Linked DNA regions of Homo sapiens. The protein of the gene in region 1 interacts with the protein of each later gene in a pairwise test. Each region holds a gene or a part of one and is shown in the gene's direction. Other genes may lie near its edges. The genes, in order: LIMS4, KRTAP11-1, GMCL2 and ARID5A.

Region 1 (3,815 bases):
GCATCTGGTGAGGACCTTCTTCTGCATCATTACATAGCAGAGGGCATCACATGGTGGGGGAAGAGGAGGGGGGAAGGAAGAGAAGGAAGGAGGCTGAACTCATCCTTTTATAAGGAACCCACCCCCTCAGTAACAGTGTTAATCCATCTGTGAGGGCAGAGCCTTCATGATGTAATCACCCCTTAGAGGTCCTACCTCTCAACACCTCTGCATTGGGGATCATGAACTTTGGGGACACAGTCACACCATAGCAGGTAGTATTACTGAGTCTACCCTCAGCACTGTGATTATTCCCTGTAGCTTTTAAAGGAAGACAAATGGACTAAAATGGAATGTGATAATACAAGAAGGAAATTATGAATATGACTGGTGTGGTGGTATGTATCTGACCTAGTCTTGCATCTTATCCTTTTAAGATACAGATGTTTTGGTAGGAGTCTGAAACCTGTTCGGGCCTATTAATTCAGGTTATTCTGATCACCTCTAAAGGGGAAAAAAGAAATTTGCAGGGATTGTCATAGTAATATCTTTAAAAACCTTCTAAAAAGTGTGCTAGCCCCATCGGTTGGCCATTTTTCTCTCTTAGTATTAAGCTGGGTGTCTTTCTCACAGACAGGAAGGATCTGACTGCCGATGCACAGGAGCTGAAAGGGGAGCTATACTGCCTGCCATGCCATGATAAAATGGGGGTCCCCATCTGTGGCGCTTGCCGACGGCCCATCGAAGGGCGTGTGGTGAACGCCATGGGCAAGCAGTGGCATGTGGAGGTGAGTTCTAAATGGTAAAGGGTAACCAATCCTTTCAAATCTCCATGATTAAGGAGTAACCAATACTTTCAAATCTCCATGATTAAGGGGTAACCAATCCTTTCAAATCTCCATGATTCAGGGATAACCAGTACTTTCAAATCTTCATGATTCAGGTGTCCTGGCAAGATTAGGAGACTCTAAAGATTAAACGTGGACATTTTAAAGACAATTGACTTTGCTGACAGCTAAGAATATAGAAGGTACACTGCTTTTGTGAATGTCTCAGTAATGATACAAGATGTGCACTTTTGCTCCTAAAGCCTTCTTGAAGCAGGAAGTGCCATGGTCTGTATCCAGCAGCAGCTCCTCCTTTATAGGTGCTACTGAGATGCTCACCTCTATTCTCTTTTTGGGCTATTATAATAGGCTGTGTCTTAAAGTAACCTTCAAAGACAGACACCTGAATTACAACTGCAGAAGTATTATGTTATGGGGCCACCTATGGCCAAATGAAATGACTGTCTCAAACTTTCCTTCATCTTCTCTGAAAATAGGTTAACTCTGGTGTTTACTTTATTAGATATAAAATATGGCAATTCAAAAATGACCTATAGCAATTTTTTTTCAGCATTTTGTTTGTGCCAAGTGTGAGAAACCCTTTCTTGGACATCGCCATTATGAGAGGAAAGGCCTGGCGTATTGTGAAACTCACTATAACCAGGTATTGACCTTAGTCACTGGATGCTAGATAGACTTTTATGAACCTAAGCTTATCAGTAGTTTAGCTACAAGGAAATCTCTTGGAAGATGTACATTGTTCAGTAGAGATTTGTTTTTAACTTTTTATTTGGGAAATAATTTCAGACTCAGAAGCTAACTATAAAAATACAAAGAATACCTGTATGTCTTTCATTCAAGTCCACAGTTTGCTTTATCATTTCCCACGCTCAGTCTTCCTGTGTAAAACACATACTTACATAAATATTATATACAAGTACGATGGCTGTTTCTAAAGCATTTGCCAATAAGTTCATCATACTCCTTTACCCCTAAATACTTCAGTGTATATTTCCCAAGAATATGGGACTCTCTAACATAATTGTAGTTATCAATATTGATACCGTACTTTAACCCATTTATTCCAGTTTTATCACTTGAGTCAGTAATATCCTCACAGCATTTTTTCCACTCCCAGACTGGACCCAGCCTAGGGCTGTGATGTTTCTTTAGCTTTCTTAAATCTGGAACGTTTCCAGAGTCTTTTAAAATTTTTGATGACATTGACATTTTGGAGGGATGCAGAGGGCCCCTAACCCCTTTTTAATAGACTACTTTCCACTTGGGTTCACCTGGTGCTTCTCTGTGCTTAGATGAGGTTATACACAGCAGGTTGTGGCCTCATACAGTGGCAGGGCATCTTCTCAGAACCTTGCCCCTGGAGCATTTTATACCTCTCCTGCACTGGTGATCTCCCAGGCATGGTGCTGGCTGATAACATCACTGTGAATTACAATTTCCTTCCCTCCTCTGTAAGAAAGAAGCAATCTGTGGGCAATCATTCTATGACCATGGAAATGTCCTGTTCCTCATCAACCCGCCCTAGATTCAGCACCCCTTGATGATTCTTGTCTCTGCGCCAGCTGCAAACAATACTTCTCCAGCCCCATGCCCTCCACCCATAGTCTGGTCCTCAGCGCTCTGCCTGAGCAAGAACCCACCTCCTCTCCCGTCTATAGGTTTATTCATTTATCTATTTCTTATCCATATGGACTCACAGATTTCTATATTTTGCATCACTTATTTGGGTGTTCAAACTGTCATCCGGGAAGTTTTTCTTTTAATTGATGAGAGTGAATTACTTTCATTGTAAGAAGTAAAAACTTGTCAAAGAACTTTTACTAATTTTCTCTAGTAGTGATAAATCCTCAATTTAGATAGCCAGCTATTTTTAAATGTTCAGTGTTCTAAAAATTCTAACACATCTTGAACTTTGACCACCTTTTTTTATTTTCAGCTATTTGGTGATGTTTGCTTCCACTGCAATCGTGTTATAGAAGGTGATGGTAAGTATCTGTGTGAGTTTTAGATTGGTGCCACTTTGACACAAAAACACTTGGGGAATGTGGAAATTCAGGTTGGTGATTGCTATGGTTTGAAATGTGATCGTTATCAGTTACTTTTTCTCTATCTTTGGCGTATTTTCCAAGTAATCTGTAGCAGTAAGATGATAATATCAAAGAGTTGGATTTGTTACTGATTTATGACACTACTTTTGGCCACTGCTGTAGTGTTGTATGCCAGCAATCATGGGAACTGTCCCTGGTGGACCCTAAGACCTGTTTCTGTGTCCAGTTTCAGGAAGCTCTAGAACAACGTTTATTAGGAAGAGTTTAATCTGCTATCGTAGTTAGCAAGAGGCACTTTAACCTGCACATGCTAAAAGCTGGCAGTTATCAGCAAGCATATCTAGGACTTACCACCCTTGTACTGTGGTAATTAGGCTGGGCTGATTGATTGGAACAGAAAGGAAGCAGCTGTGTTTGCTAAGACTCGCTAACACACTTCTGCCAGAGACTTCCTGGCAAAGTTTTGAACGATACTGTTTTCAGCATGATTCATGGCTGCCTGCAGACATCACCTAATTCAGGAAATACTTTTGAAACTGTTCATGTGCAGTTTGTGAAAACAATCCAGGAAAACAATCTTTAGTGCCATTGAAAATAAAACTTACCTCCCTCCTCTGTGAAATAGATGCCAGGTGAAAGAAGCTGCAGAGGAAACTGTCTTGTTATCATCAGCTCTGGAAAAAAGACTCCTACAGAGGCAAATAAGTTAATGTCTGGATTTTTGAAAATTATTTACCTAGTTCATATTTCCTAGTTGGGCCAACAGCAGTAGGGACAGAAACAGCAAGCTCACCTAAACAACATGATGCATGGACAGTTGCCACATGTGCCCAGGCCAAGGGGGCACAGTTGCTGGTGTAAGACATGGCACACATCATTTATAACTTCACAGGATACTTAAGGATGGGGGAAGATTAAAGTCAGCCCTCCGTATCCAGGG
Region 2 (3,245 bases), on another chromosome or scaffold:
CACAACATTGTGGAAAGTAGTCATCTCATTAATTTCACCCCGTTCCTGGGAACACATGGTGAGTCACTGAGGGAGGGTCAGGACATTGAGGTCTGATATCTGGGAATCATGCTATTGCTCACAGCACCCTCTTCTTTGGGTGTGTCGTTAGTTTCCAATTAGGGATTTCTGATGAGTCCTGACATAACGCTGTTTGCTTTGTGGATATTTAAAACATAGCTTACCTGTAGCCCTCAAATACATGGAAATCCATTTTATTCCCTTACGCTCCCTCATGTAAGCTAGTTTAAAAATGAGTCAGATGCTACAGCTGTTTTGGGACAGAAATACCACTGACCACTTGAAGCGATGTTGAAGTTGCTTATTTTGCCAGAGTTGAGGCAGTTTATTCATCTATGTTCAGGTGGACCCAAACGAGCCATCATTCTGGTGTTTAAAATTCATTATATTGTAGTGAGATGAAATAAAATAGAGTGATATCCCTATAGCTTCCCCAAGCATAAAAAGAATAATTAAATATAGCACACTCTTCACACATCTCTTCATTACCAAACATTGATTAAGTGCCTGCTTCCCCCAGCTCTGCCTCCCCCTTATCCCTGATGGAGACAATGACCTTGAAGAGCCTTTAGTTTGTCCATAATTAAAATGCATTCTATCTATATGTGTGAAAATAAATATCTTTTGAACATATTGAACAAATTGGGAGAAAGACACTGTACCCTTTCAAATTAACATTATGATAATTTTAAAAATTAACTAAGCCTTTTCCACTGGCATATTAATGAGACCCAGGAGTCACTATTATCCACTGTTATTAAATTAAACATTTTAGGAATAAAGCTCATCCAATTTACTTAGAAAAGGTCTTGGCTACAAATACAGTTGCACTTAGTTAGCTTCTAATTTGCTTTGTTGGTTGAACATAAAGGGTGGGTCCCACTGCCCTCTAGCCTTCCCACGGGCATCTTGTTTGAGTCAGTTGATTAATTTTGAGAGCCAGCTCAGACTTTGGATACAAGTCTCTGTGCCCTTTGTTCCTGTCAAGTGTTGTCACTGTTGTCTTGAAACATATTCAAGGAGGCACCTTCCCAATGAGGAGCTCCGTTAGGTGTGGTAGAGTGACTGATTAAGTTATGTTTAAAAGATATTAAGTCCAGTGACAAATGAAACAGGGCATGGGCTTGTAATTGGTCCTGGTAGGGAGGGAGAGAGTGTGTGATGGTAGGATGGTGGCATCTTTGGTAGGATGAGTGTCAGGTCAACACTCATCATAAGCAAGATGAATGAGGGACAACGTGTGGGCTGGGATGACCAATAGCTTTGAAGCTGCCAACCAGCCTTCTTAATCAGACTAAGTACAGTACAGAAGACTTGTGATTTAGTTACCAAACTACTAAACTTTCTTTATGAGGGTGAAGGCTTCTTAAGAGACAATTAATGTGTAGATTCACAAGATGTTCTAAGGCAAACTGGTCTGAGCCAAAGAAGCCACGGAGACCAGGGAGAGAGCCCCACCCACCAGCAAGGATATATAAAAGCTCAGGAGTCTGGAGTGACATTCACAACTCAGGAGGTAACTTCAGCAAGCTACCTGCAGCCCTCTGTCTGACATCATGTCCTTCAACTGCTCCACAAGAAATTGCTCTTCCAGGCCCATTGGAGGACGCTGCATTGTTCCAGTGGCCCAAGTTACCACGACTTCCACCACTGATGCTGACTGCCTGGGCGGCATCTGTTTGCCCAGTTCCTTCCAGACTGGCTCTTGGCTCCTGGACCACTGTCAAGAGACCTGCTGTGAGCCCACTGCTTGCCAGCCAACCTGTTACCGGCGAACTTCATGTGTCTCCAACCCTTGCCAGGTGACTTGCTCTCGACAAACTACCTGTATTTCCAACCCCTGCTCAACTACCTACAGCCGGCCGCTCACCTTTGTCTCTAGTGGATGTCAGCCCCTGGGAGGCATCTCCAGTGTCTGCCAACCAGTGGGCGGCATCTCTACTGTCTGCCAACCAGTGGGAGGAGTCTCTACTGTCTGCCAGCCAGCCTGTGGGGTCTCCAGGACGTATCAGCAGTCCTGCGTGTCCAGCTGCCGAAGAACCTGCTAAGTGTGTAGGAGCCAGTGAGCGAATCAAGACTCCACGACCTGCCAGCTGTTTCCAGGATCTTCCAGCATGCTGCTTGTCCCTGAATAGCTCTTCATAGCTGACCCTTCTTGTGACCGCCTGACTGCTGGCTACTATCCATGCACACGCTGTCTTTAGCACTCTAAAATTTTTCTGGCCAGCCCTAAGCTTGTTTTAAGGGTTGCTCACTGGTGCTGTGTATGCCTCTGGATGTGTCCAGAAGCTTTACCATCCACACCCCAGTCTCTGATGCTTTTGACATGTTTTCACCTTGCTGCTGTATCTCCTGGCCTCTGCTTTTGTGTCTCACAAAAACAGAGCTTGTCTCACCATGTATTTCTCAATAAACCTGCATTAGTTGGCATTGCAAATGTATGTCTCAGCAGAATTCTTTTTTAAACATTTCAACTTTTAATTTAGTTTTTGCGGGGTACATGTGCAGGTTTGCTACAGGGGTATACTGTGTGATGCTGAGGTTTGGGGTATGATTGAACCCATCTGTCAGGTATTGAACATAGTACCCAATAGGTAGTTTTCCAACCCTTTTCCTCTTCCTCACTCCCCGCTCTTCCAGTTGCCAGTGTCTATTGTTTTTATCTTTATGTCCACGTGTACCTAATGTTTAGCTCCTACTTATTAGTGAGAACAGGTGGTATTTAGTTTTCTCAACAGAGCTCCTTGTTTGCAAGAGTCTTTGCTGATCAGGGTCTGATTTTTTTTTTCCTGAGCCTAGAATATGGGCTTAATCATTATGCCCTGTGACCAAACCAAGGATTATCTTATATTTTACTTGTTCAGAGAGAGTCTTCAGCTGTGCGGTGAAGTAAGGGCTATGATTTTTCTTTTCTTTTCTTTCTTTCTTTTTCTTTTTCTTTTTTTTCTTTTTTTTGAGATGGAGTCTCACTCTGTCGCCCAGGCTGGAGTGCAGTGGCACGATCTTGGCTCACTGTAAACTCTGCCTACTGGGTTCAAGTGATTCTCCTGCCTCAGCCTCCAGAGTAGCTGGGATTACAGACGTTCACCACTACGCCCGGCTAATTTTTGTAGTTTTAGTAGAGACAGGTTTCACCACGTTGGCCAGGCTGGTTTTGAACTCCTGAGCTCAGGTGATCTGCCGCC
Region 3 (4,366 bases), on another chromosome or scaffold:
CTCCTCAATTCCGACATCCTAATCCTGCTGCCCCTGTCTCCACAGATCCTCCCCACAGAGAATCCCTGCCTATCCTGCCCAGGCCCTCTGCTTGCTTCTGCCTTCCCAGACCGGCTGCAGTGATCATTTCACCCAGCCATGGTCACTTTCACCATATTGGCCAGGCTGGTCTTGAACTCCTGACCTCGTGATCTGCCCACCTCGGCCTCCCAAAGTGCTGGGATTACAGGTGTGAGCAGCCACCGTACCTGGCTTGACTTCAAGTCTTTATTCTATTTTATTTTATCTTATTATTTTTTTCTGGAGACGGAATTTCGCTCTTGTCGCCCAGGCTGGAATGTAATGATGCGATCTTGGCTCACTGCAACTTCTGCCTCCTGGGTTCAAGCAGTTCTCCATTTCAGCCTCCCGAAAAGCTGGGATTACAGGCGTGCACCACCACACCTGGCTAAATTTTATATTATTAGTAGAGATGGGGTTTCACCATGTTGGCCAGGCCAGTCTCAAACTCCTGACCTCATGTGATCCACCCACCTTGGCCTCCCAAAGTGCTGGGATTATAGGCATGAGCCACCGAGCCTGGCCTATTTTATTTTATTATTTTATTTTATTTTTGTGCCTGGTCGCAAATTTACATTGGACTGGTTAGGCTCAAGCGTCTGGTACACACATTTTCCTTTGTCAGGTCTTGCAAATAAAACTTTGCTCCTAGGGAAGTGGTCCTTCTAAAACGGACCTTGGTTTTGGCTGCCAGATGAGAATTGCTTCCAGCAATGAAGAATGCTGTCCAAGGAGTTCAAGACCACCCGGAGAAACACAGTGAAACCTTGTCTCTAAAAGAAATTGTTTTAGGCCGGAGGCAGTGGCTCACGCCTGTAGTCCCAGCACTTTGGGAGGCCAAGGTAAGAGGATCACCTGAAGTCAGGAGTTTGAGACCAGCCTGGCCAACATGGGGAAACCCCGCCTCTACTAAAAATACAAAAATTACCCAGGTGTGGTGGCGGGCGCCTGTAATCCCAGCTACTCAGGAGGCTGAGGCAGGAGAATCACTTGAACCCGCGAGGCAGAGGTTGCAGTGAGCCGAGATCGCGCCACTGCACTCCAGCCTGGGCGACAGAGCAAGACTCCGTCTCAAAAAAAAAAAAAAAAAAAAATTGTGGGGGAGGGGTGCGGAGGTTGGAGGCGGCAGTGTCCGCTGCAACGGTTGGGGCTGCGCGTGAGAAGGTGGCGGTGTAGGCACCTGTGCTCGGGGAAGGCTGGCGGCGGCGGCCGGGCCATGGCCAGAGACCCCCTCCTCTGGGCTCCCTGAAGTCCTGGGGAGCCGTGACCCATGGGATCGTCGAGCAGCCGGGTGCTGGGCCAGCCGAGGCGAGCCCTTGCCCAGCAGGAACAGGGTGCCAGGGCCAGGGGCTCGGCCCGGAGGCCGGACACTGGAGACGATGCGGCGAGCTACGGCTTCTGTTACTGCCCGGGCAGTCACAAGCGCAAGCGGAGCAGCGGGGCCTGCCGCTACTGTGACCCGGACTCGCACAGGGAGGAGCATGAGGAGGAGGGGGACAAGCAGCAGCCGCTCCTCAACACCCCTGCAAGGAAAAAATTAAGGAGTACATCCAAATATATTTATCAAACATTATTTTTGAATGGTGAAAACAGTGACATTAAGATTTGTGCTCTAGGAGAAGAATGGCGATTACACAAAATATATTTATGTCAATCTGGCTACTTTTCTAGTATGTTCAGTGGTTCTTGGAAAGAATCCAGCATGAATATTATTGAACTGGAGATTCCTGACCAGAACATTGATGTAGACGCACTGCAGGTTGCGTTTGGTTCACTGTATCGAGATGATGTCTTGATAAAACCCAGTCGAGTTGTTGCCATTTTGGCAGCAGCTTGTATGCTGCAGCTGGATGGTTTAATACAGCAGTGTGGTGAGACAATGAAGGAAACAATTAATGTGAAAACTGTATGCGGTTATTACACATCAGTAGAGATCTATGGATTAGATTCTGTAAAGAAAAAGTGCCTTGAATGGCTTCTAAACAATTTGATGACTCACCAGAATGTTAAACTTTTTAAAGAACTCGGTATAAATGTCATGAAACAGCTCATTGGTTCCTCTAACTTATTTGTGATGCAAGTGGAGATGGATGTATACACCACTCTAAAAAAGTGGATGTTCCTTCAACTTGTGCCTTCTTGGAATGGATCTTTAAAACAGCTTTTGACAGAAACAGATGTCTGGTTTTCTAAACAGAGAAAAGATTTTGAAGGTATGGCCTTTCTTGAAACTGAACCAGGAAAACCATTTGTGTCAGTATTCAGACATTTAAGGTTACAATATATTATCAGTGACCTAGCTTCTGCAAGAATTATTGAACAAGATGGTATAGTACCTTCAGAATGGCTGTCTTCTGTGTATAAACAGCAGTGGTTTGCTATGCTGCGGGCAGAACAAGACCGTGAGGTAGGGCCTCAAGAAATCAATAAAGAAGACCTAGAGGGAAATAGCATGAGGTGTGGTAGAAAGCTTGCCAAAGATGGTGAATACTACTGGTGTTGGACGGGTTTTAACTTCGGCTTTGACCTACTTGTAATTTACACCAATGGATACATCATTTTCAAACGCAATACACTGAATCAGCCACGCAGCGGGTCTGTCAGTTTACGGCCTCGAAGGAGCATAGCATTTAGATTACGCTTGGCTTCTTTTGATAGTAGTGGAAAACTAGTATGTAGTAGAACAACTGGCTATCAAATACTTATACTTAAAAAGGATCAGGAACAAGTGGTGATGAACTTGGACAGCAGGTTTCTGACCTTCCCTTTATATATCTGCTGTAACTTCTTGTATATATCACCAGAAAAAGGAATTGAAAATAATCGTCACCCAGAAAATCCAGAAAACTGAAGATCTCATCAGTTGGAAACAGTAGCACTTTGAAAACTTTCAGGCCAGCTTTAATTTAATGGCCCTACTGATATTCACATCTAAGTTGACTAACAATGACAAAGGCCTTATGAACTGTACGGACAATACAGAAGACTATTCTTATCCTCATTGCATTTCTATGCATATACAAAAAAAATCATTTTAAAGCCAAGAAAATATCTGTCAAACCATTTCTGTCAGTACGATGTCAACTCATGCTTTTAATTCAGCATCAGCAGAAAATGACTGTAGGTAAATCTCACATTTATCTGCAACAAAATATAGATTTAATTTTTAGCTTAAACTTTGTTTCTACCTTATGTTAGTGGACCTCAGTTATCCATCTGTAAATTTATTTTTATTTGGCTAAAATAATCTAAAAGAATAATTTGGATGGCCAATTAGAAATGCTCTTTTGAGCTGGGGCATTTAAAGCTTTCCTTTAATATTTTTACCTGCTCATTATGATTCCTCCTTTTAGTCTAATATCTTTCCAGTTCATACTTGTTTTTAATCATTAAATACTTTCTTCCTGGTTTGGAGACTAAGCTGAGAAACTTTTTTTAAACTTAAGCATTGTCATATGCTATTTTTTAAAATTTGGCTTTCCTAGGATTTTAAGAACAATGAAAGTTAGCTTCACACCTTCAAATGATCTTGAATGCGTGAAAAATCAGTTTGATTCCAGGGATATTTCTTGTCTTACATGGTCTTTTCTTTGACAGTCTGTACACCTTTATTATTAGTTTTTGAGTTATTTATGTACCAGATATTATACTTTTAAATATTTTAATATTCTCTGATCTTTACAATTATTTATGTTCAAATTTTAGTTGGGAGTTTTGTTTCCTACTTAAGCTCAGGACTTGATACCCTCTGAGATGAGTGGCTTTGAGTGACATGCTAACAGCAATTTCATAGTAAATGTAAATAAGGTCAGAGGATCTAACATAGAAGCTGATGACGCATTAATGTAAAAATGGAACTTATTTTTGTCAAAAATAAGATGTACACTTGTCATGATTTATATATGTTGACCTTTTGTGTTTACTGCTGTTTTGAATAGAGCCATGTTCATTTTCTTTCCAGTTAGAGTAAGTACTTCTGTGGTTAATGTATATTTTTATTCTGGCTTTTAAAATGGGAATAATTTGTATGTATCTGTGCAAATAATAAATGCGCATTTGGAAAAAGATTAAGTAAGCTCTTATATGAAATGGACCAAAAAACCCCCCTTAATTGAAACCAACATTTTTTTTCTTTCTAGTTAGATTTTTTTCCAACTCCTTTTAACTTTTGGAATTTACTAATAATTTTTTTTCTTTCTTAATGATATGTCCATAGGTTCATAAATTGCTTTTTCTTTTAAAATTCATCTACTTGGTTTAACTTAAAGGAACCTTTTAAATGCCTCACCCTTGACCCCCAGAGCTG
Region 4 (3,815 bases), about 14 Mb from region 1:
CTCTCCAGGCTTACTTGGACTCTTCATGAAGGCCTTGCAAATGTTGATAACCACAGCAGCCACTGGACCAGAATCAGACTTTGTTTTGAATCCTGGTCCCCCAGGGAGGCAAGCAACTTACCCATAACCATTCTGGCTTCAGATTCCCCCTCTTTAAAATGGAATTCCTCCGGGACTGAGGGAGAGAATGTACAGGCACACCTTGCTCTATCATGCTTTGCTTTATTGTACTTCACAAATACAGCATTTTTTACTCATTGAAGGTTTGTGGCAACCCAGCATCGAGCAAGTCTATCGATGCCATTTTTTAACAGCACGTGCTCACTTTGTGTCTCGGTGTCACATTTTGGTGATTCTTACAACATTTCAAACTTTTTCATTATTATATCTGTTATGGTGATCTGTGATCAGTGATCTTTGATGTTCCTATTGTCATTGTTTTGGGGTACCATGAACCCCACCCACAAAGACAGTGAACTAAATCGATAAATGTTGTGTGTGCTCCTCCTCCACCTGCTCCATCGACCAGCATTCCCCATCTCTCTTCCTCTCTTTCTCTTCTTTGGCCTCCCTGTTGCCTAAGGCACAACAATATTGAAACTGGGCCAATTAACAGTCCTACAATGGTCTTTAAGTGTTCAAGTGAAAGGAGGAGTTACAGGTCTTTACTTTTAAATAAAAAAACTAGAAATAATTAAACTTAGTGAGGAAGGCAGGTCGAAAGCCCAGATAGGCCGAAAGCTAGGCCTCTTGCACCAGTTTGTCAAGTTGTGAATGCCAAGGAAAAGTTATTGAAGGAAATCAGAAGTGCTATTCCAGTGAACACGCATGGTAAAGCAAAACAGCCTTATTGCTGATAATGGAGAAAGTTTGAGAAGTCTGGATAGAAGATCCAACAAGCCATAACATTCCCTTAAGACAAAGCCTAATCCAGACCAAGGCTCTAAATCTCCAATGCTGTGAAGGCTGAGAGAGGTGAGGAAGCTGCAGAAGAAAAGTTGGAAGCTAGCAGAGGTTGCTTCATGAGGTTTAAGGAAAGACGCCATCACCATCACATAAAAGTGCAAGGCGAATCAACCAGGGCTGGTGTAGAAGCTGCAGCAATTTATCCAGAAGATCCAGCTAAGATCACTGATGAAGGTGGCCACACTACCACAGATTTTCCATGTAGATGAAACAGCTTTGTATCAGAAGAAGATGTCATCTAGGACTTTCATAGCTAAGGAGAAGTCAATGCATGGCTTCAAAAGACAGGCTGACTCTCTTGTTAGGGGCTAATGCAGCTGGTACTGGTGACTTTAAGTTGAAGCCTGTGCTCATTTATCATTCCAAAAAACCTAGAACCTTTAAGAATTATGCTAAATCTACTCACTCTGTGTTCTAAAAATGAAATAACAAAGCCTGGATGACAGCACATCTGTTTATAACATGGTTTACTGAGTATTTTAAGCCAACTGTTGAGACCTACTGCTCAGAAAAAAGGATTCCTTTCAAAATATTATTGTTCATTGACAAGGCAACCGGTCATGCAAGAGCGCTGATGAAAATGTACCAGGAGCTGCATGTTGTTTTCATGCCTACTAGCACAACATTTATTCTAGAGCCAAGGATCAAGGAGTAATTTTAAGTTTCAAGTCTTATTATTTAAGAAATACATTTTGTAAGACTGTAGCTGCCATAGATAGTGATTCCTCTGATGGGCAAAATACATTGAAAACCTCCGGAGAGCATTTCAGGTACATTTGTGGTTCGTGGGAGGAGGTCAAAATATCCAAGCATTTGGGAGAATTTGATTCCAACCTTCCTGGATGACTTTGAGGGCTTCAAGACTTCAGTGGAGAAGACACTGCAGATGCAGTGGAACCAGCAAGAGAACTAGAGTTAGAAAGCAGAGCTTGAGGATGAGACTGAATTGCTGCAATCTCATGATCAAACTTGAGTGGATGAGGAGTTGCTTTTTATGGGTGGGCAAAGAAAGTGACTTTTTTTCTTCTTTTTTTTTCTTTCCTTTTCTTTTCTTTTTCTTTTTCTTTTTTTTTTTTTTTTTTGAGACAGAGTCTTGTTCCATCGCCCAGACTGGAGTACAGTGGAGTAATCTCAGCTCACTGCAGCCTCCGCCTCCTAGGTTCAAAGGATTCTCCTGCCTCAGCCTCCTGAGTTGCTGGGACTACTGGGACCTGCCACCACACCCAGCTGACTTTTGTGTTTTTAGTAGAGACAGGGTTTCGCCACGTTGGCCAGGCTGGTCTCAAACTTCTGACCTCAGGTGATCCACCCACCTTGGCCCCCAAAGTGCTGGGATTACAGGCGTGAGCCACCGCGCCCATCCTAAAGTGGCTTCTTGAGGTGGAATCTACTGGCGAAGATGCTGTGAACATTGTCAAAATGACAACAAAGGATTTAGAATGTTACAGAAACTTAGTTGATAAAGCAGCAGCAGGGTTTGAGAGGAGGGACATCAGTTTTGAAAGTTTTGCTGTGGATAAAATGCTGTCAAAAATAGCATCACATGCATGCCATGGAGAAGTCTTTCATGAAAGGAAGAGTTGCCAGGTGCAGTGGCTCATGCCTGTAATCCCAGCACTTTGGGAGGCCGAGGTGGGTGGATCATGAGGTCAGGAGTTTGAGACCAGTCTGGCCAATATGGTGAAACCCCGTCTCTACTAAAAATACAAAAATTAGCCGGGCTTAGTGGCACGCACCTGTAGTCCCAGCTACTCGGGAGGCTGAGGCAGGAGAATCACTTGAACCTGGGAGGCGAAGATTGCAGTGAGCCAAGATCACGCCACTGCACTCCAGCCTGGGCAACAGAGCAAGATTCTGACTCAAAAAAAAAAAAAGAGTTAATGGATGTGGCAAACTTCATTGTTGTCTTATTTTAAGAAATTGCCACAGTCACCCCAGCCCAAGAAACCACCACCCTGAAATCAGTCAGCAGCCATCAACATGGAGGGAAGACATAAGAACACCTACCAAAGCAGGACCACTCAGTGGCCAAGGATTCTACCCTGTGCCTCTGAGTACCACTGGCCCCTGGCTTACGCTGGTTTGGGTTTCTTGTTCCTGAGGAGATTCTTTTTCTGTCTGGGATGGAAGGGAAATCTCATAGGTTCCTAACAATAAGGATGTCCTGGGAGGGAGTGAACCAATTCATACTTGATTAACAAAAGAACAAAGGACAGAAAGAAAAGGTTGTCAGAAGATGTGGGTTCCTGGTCTGGTATCTGCTGCCAGCCTGCTGTGTGGCCTCAGGCAGTTTCCAGTGGTTGTGGTTTTTGCAGTGGCAGAGGTGTTGCGTTTTTGCAACCATCAGCACATGGTGGTTCTTAGTAAAATACAGCCCATGGCTTCTCCTGCCCACCACGCAGGGTTGTTGTGAGCCTTGCTCATTCCAGCTTGGCACCTGCTGTGTGGGGTATGGGAAGCCTCACCGAACTATCAGGGAGCCCCAGGAGCCACAGGCAGTTCAGCCAGGATGGCTGTGAGTAGCCTAGGGCGAGGGAGGAGCTGCCCGTGGCCAGGGGCCAGAGGAGGCCACCCAGAGGAAGGCACTTGTCAGCAGAGACCTGAGGGGTCACCAGGACCCTTGTAGGTGAGGAGAGCATGTGGCCTTATTAGGGCAGTTAGAACTCTGCAGATGCTCAGGGAAAGGTCAGATATTCCTGAATATTCCCAGAGGAACTACTACCCAGGGACCCCTGTGTTGCTTTGGGGCCACAGCCATGGGATCCTTTAGCTCTCCAGTGAGACTAAGCTGCTTCTCAACTCTGTGTCTGAGCATGGGGCAGATTTTGGAGACAGGATTTCCCCAAGCA

What was found.
Region 2: the proteins of LIMS4 (region 1) and KRTAP11-1 interact in binary tests that used the Homo sapiens proteins (3 or more experiments, as listed by UniProt).
Region 3: the proteins of LIMS4 (region 1) and GMCL2 interact in binary tests that used the Homo sapiens proteins (3 or more experiments, as listed by UniProt).
Region 4: the proteins of LIMS4 (region 1) and ARID5A interact in binary tests that used the Homo sapiens proteins (3 or more experiments, as listed by UniProt).

Annotation. Positions count from the first base shown.
Region 1 is NC_000002.12:110,448,816-110,452,630, reverse strand, and holds part of LIMS4 (LIM and senescent cell antigen-like-containing domain protein 4), read left to right. Parts: exon of another isoform or gene 1-21; intron 22-612; exon of another isoform or gene 613-616; coding exon 617-767; intron 768-1,377; coding exon 1,378-1,470; exon of another isoform or gene 1,471-2,276; intron 2,277-2,763; coding exon 2,764-2,812; intron 2,813-3,480; exon of another isoform or gene 3,481-3,815.
Region 2 is NC_000021.9:30,879,896-30,883,140, reverse strand, and holds KRTAP11-1 (keratin-associated protein 11-1), read left to right. Parts: upstream 1-1,560; 5' UTR 1,561-1,616; coding exon 1,617-2,108; 3' UTR 2,109-2,497; downstream 2,498-3,245. UniProt on the Homo sapiens protein: In the hair cortex, hair keratin intermediate filaments are embedded in an interfilamentous matrix, consisting of hair keratin-associated proteins (KRTAP), which are essential for the formation of a rigid and resistant hair shaft through their extensive disulfide bond cross-linking with abundant cysteine residues of hair keratins.
Region 3 is NC_000005.10:178,184,264-178,188,629, reverse strand, and holds GMCL2 (germ cell-less protein-like 2), read left to right. Parts: upstream 1-1,258; 5' UTR 1,259-1,330; coding exon 1,331-2,911; 3' UTR 2,912-4,125; downstream 4,126-4,366. UniProt on the Homo sapiens protein: Possible function in spermatogenesis. Probable substrate-specific adapter of an E3 ubiquitin-protein ligase complex which mediates the ubiquitination and subsequent proteasomal degradation of target proteins.
Region 4 is NC_000002.12:96,543,127-96,546,941, forward strand, and holds part of ARID5A (AT-rich interactive domain-containing protein 5A), read left to right. Parts: intron 1-3,815. UniProt on the Homo sapiens protein: DNA-binding protein that may regulate transcription and act as a repressor by binding to AT-rich stretches in the promoter region of target genes.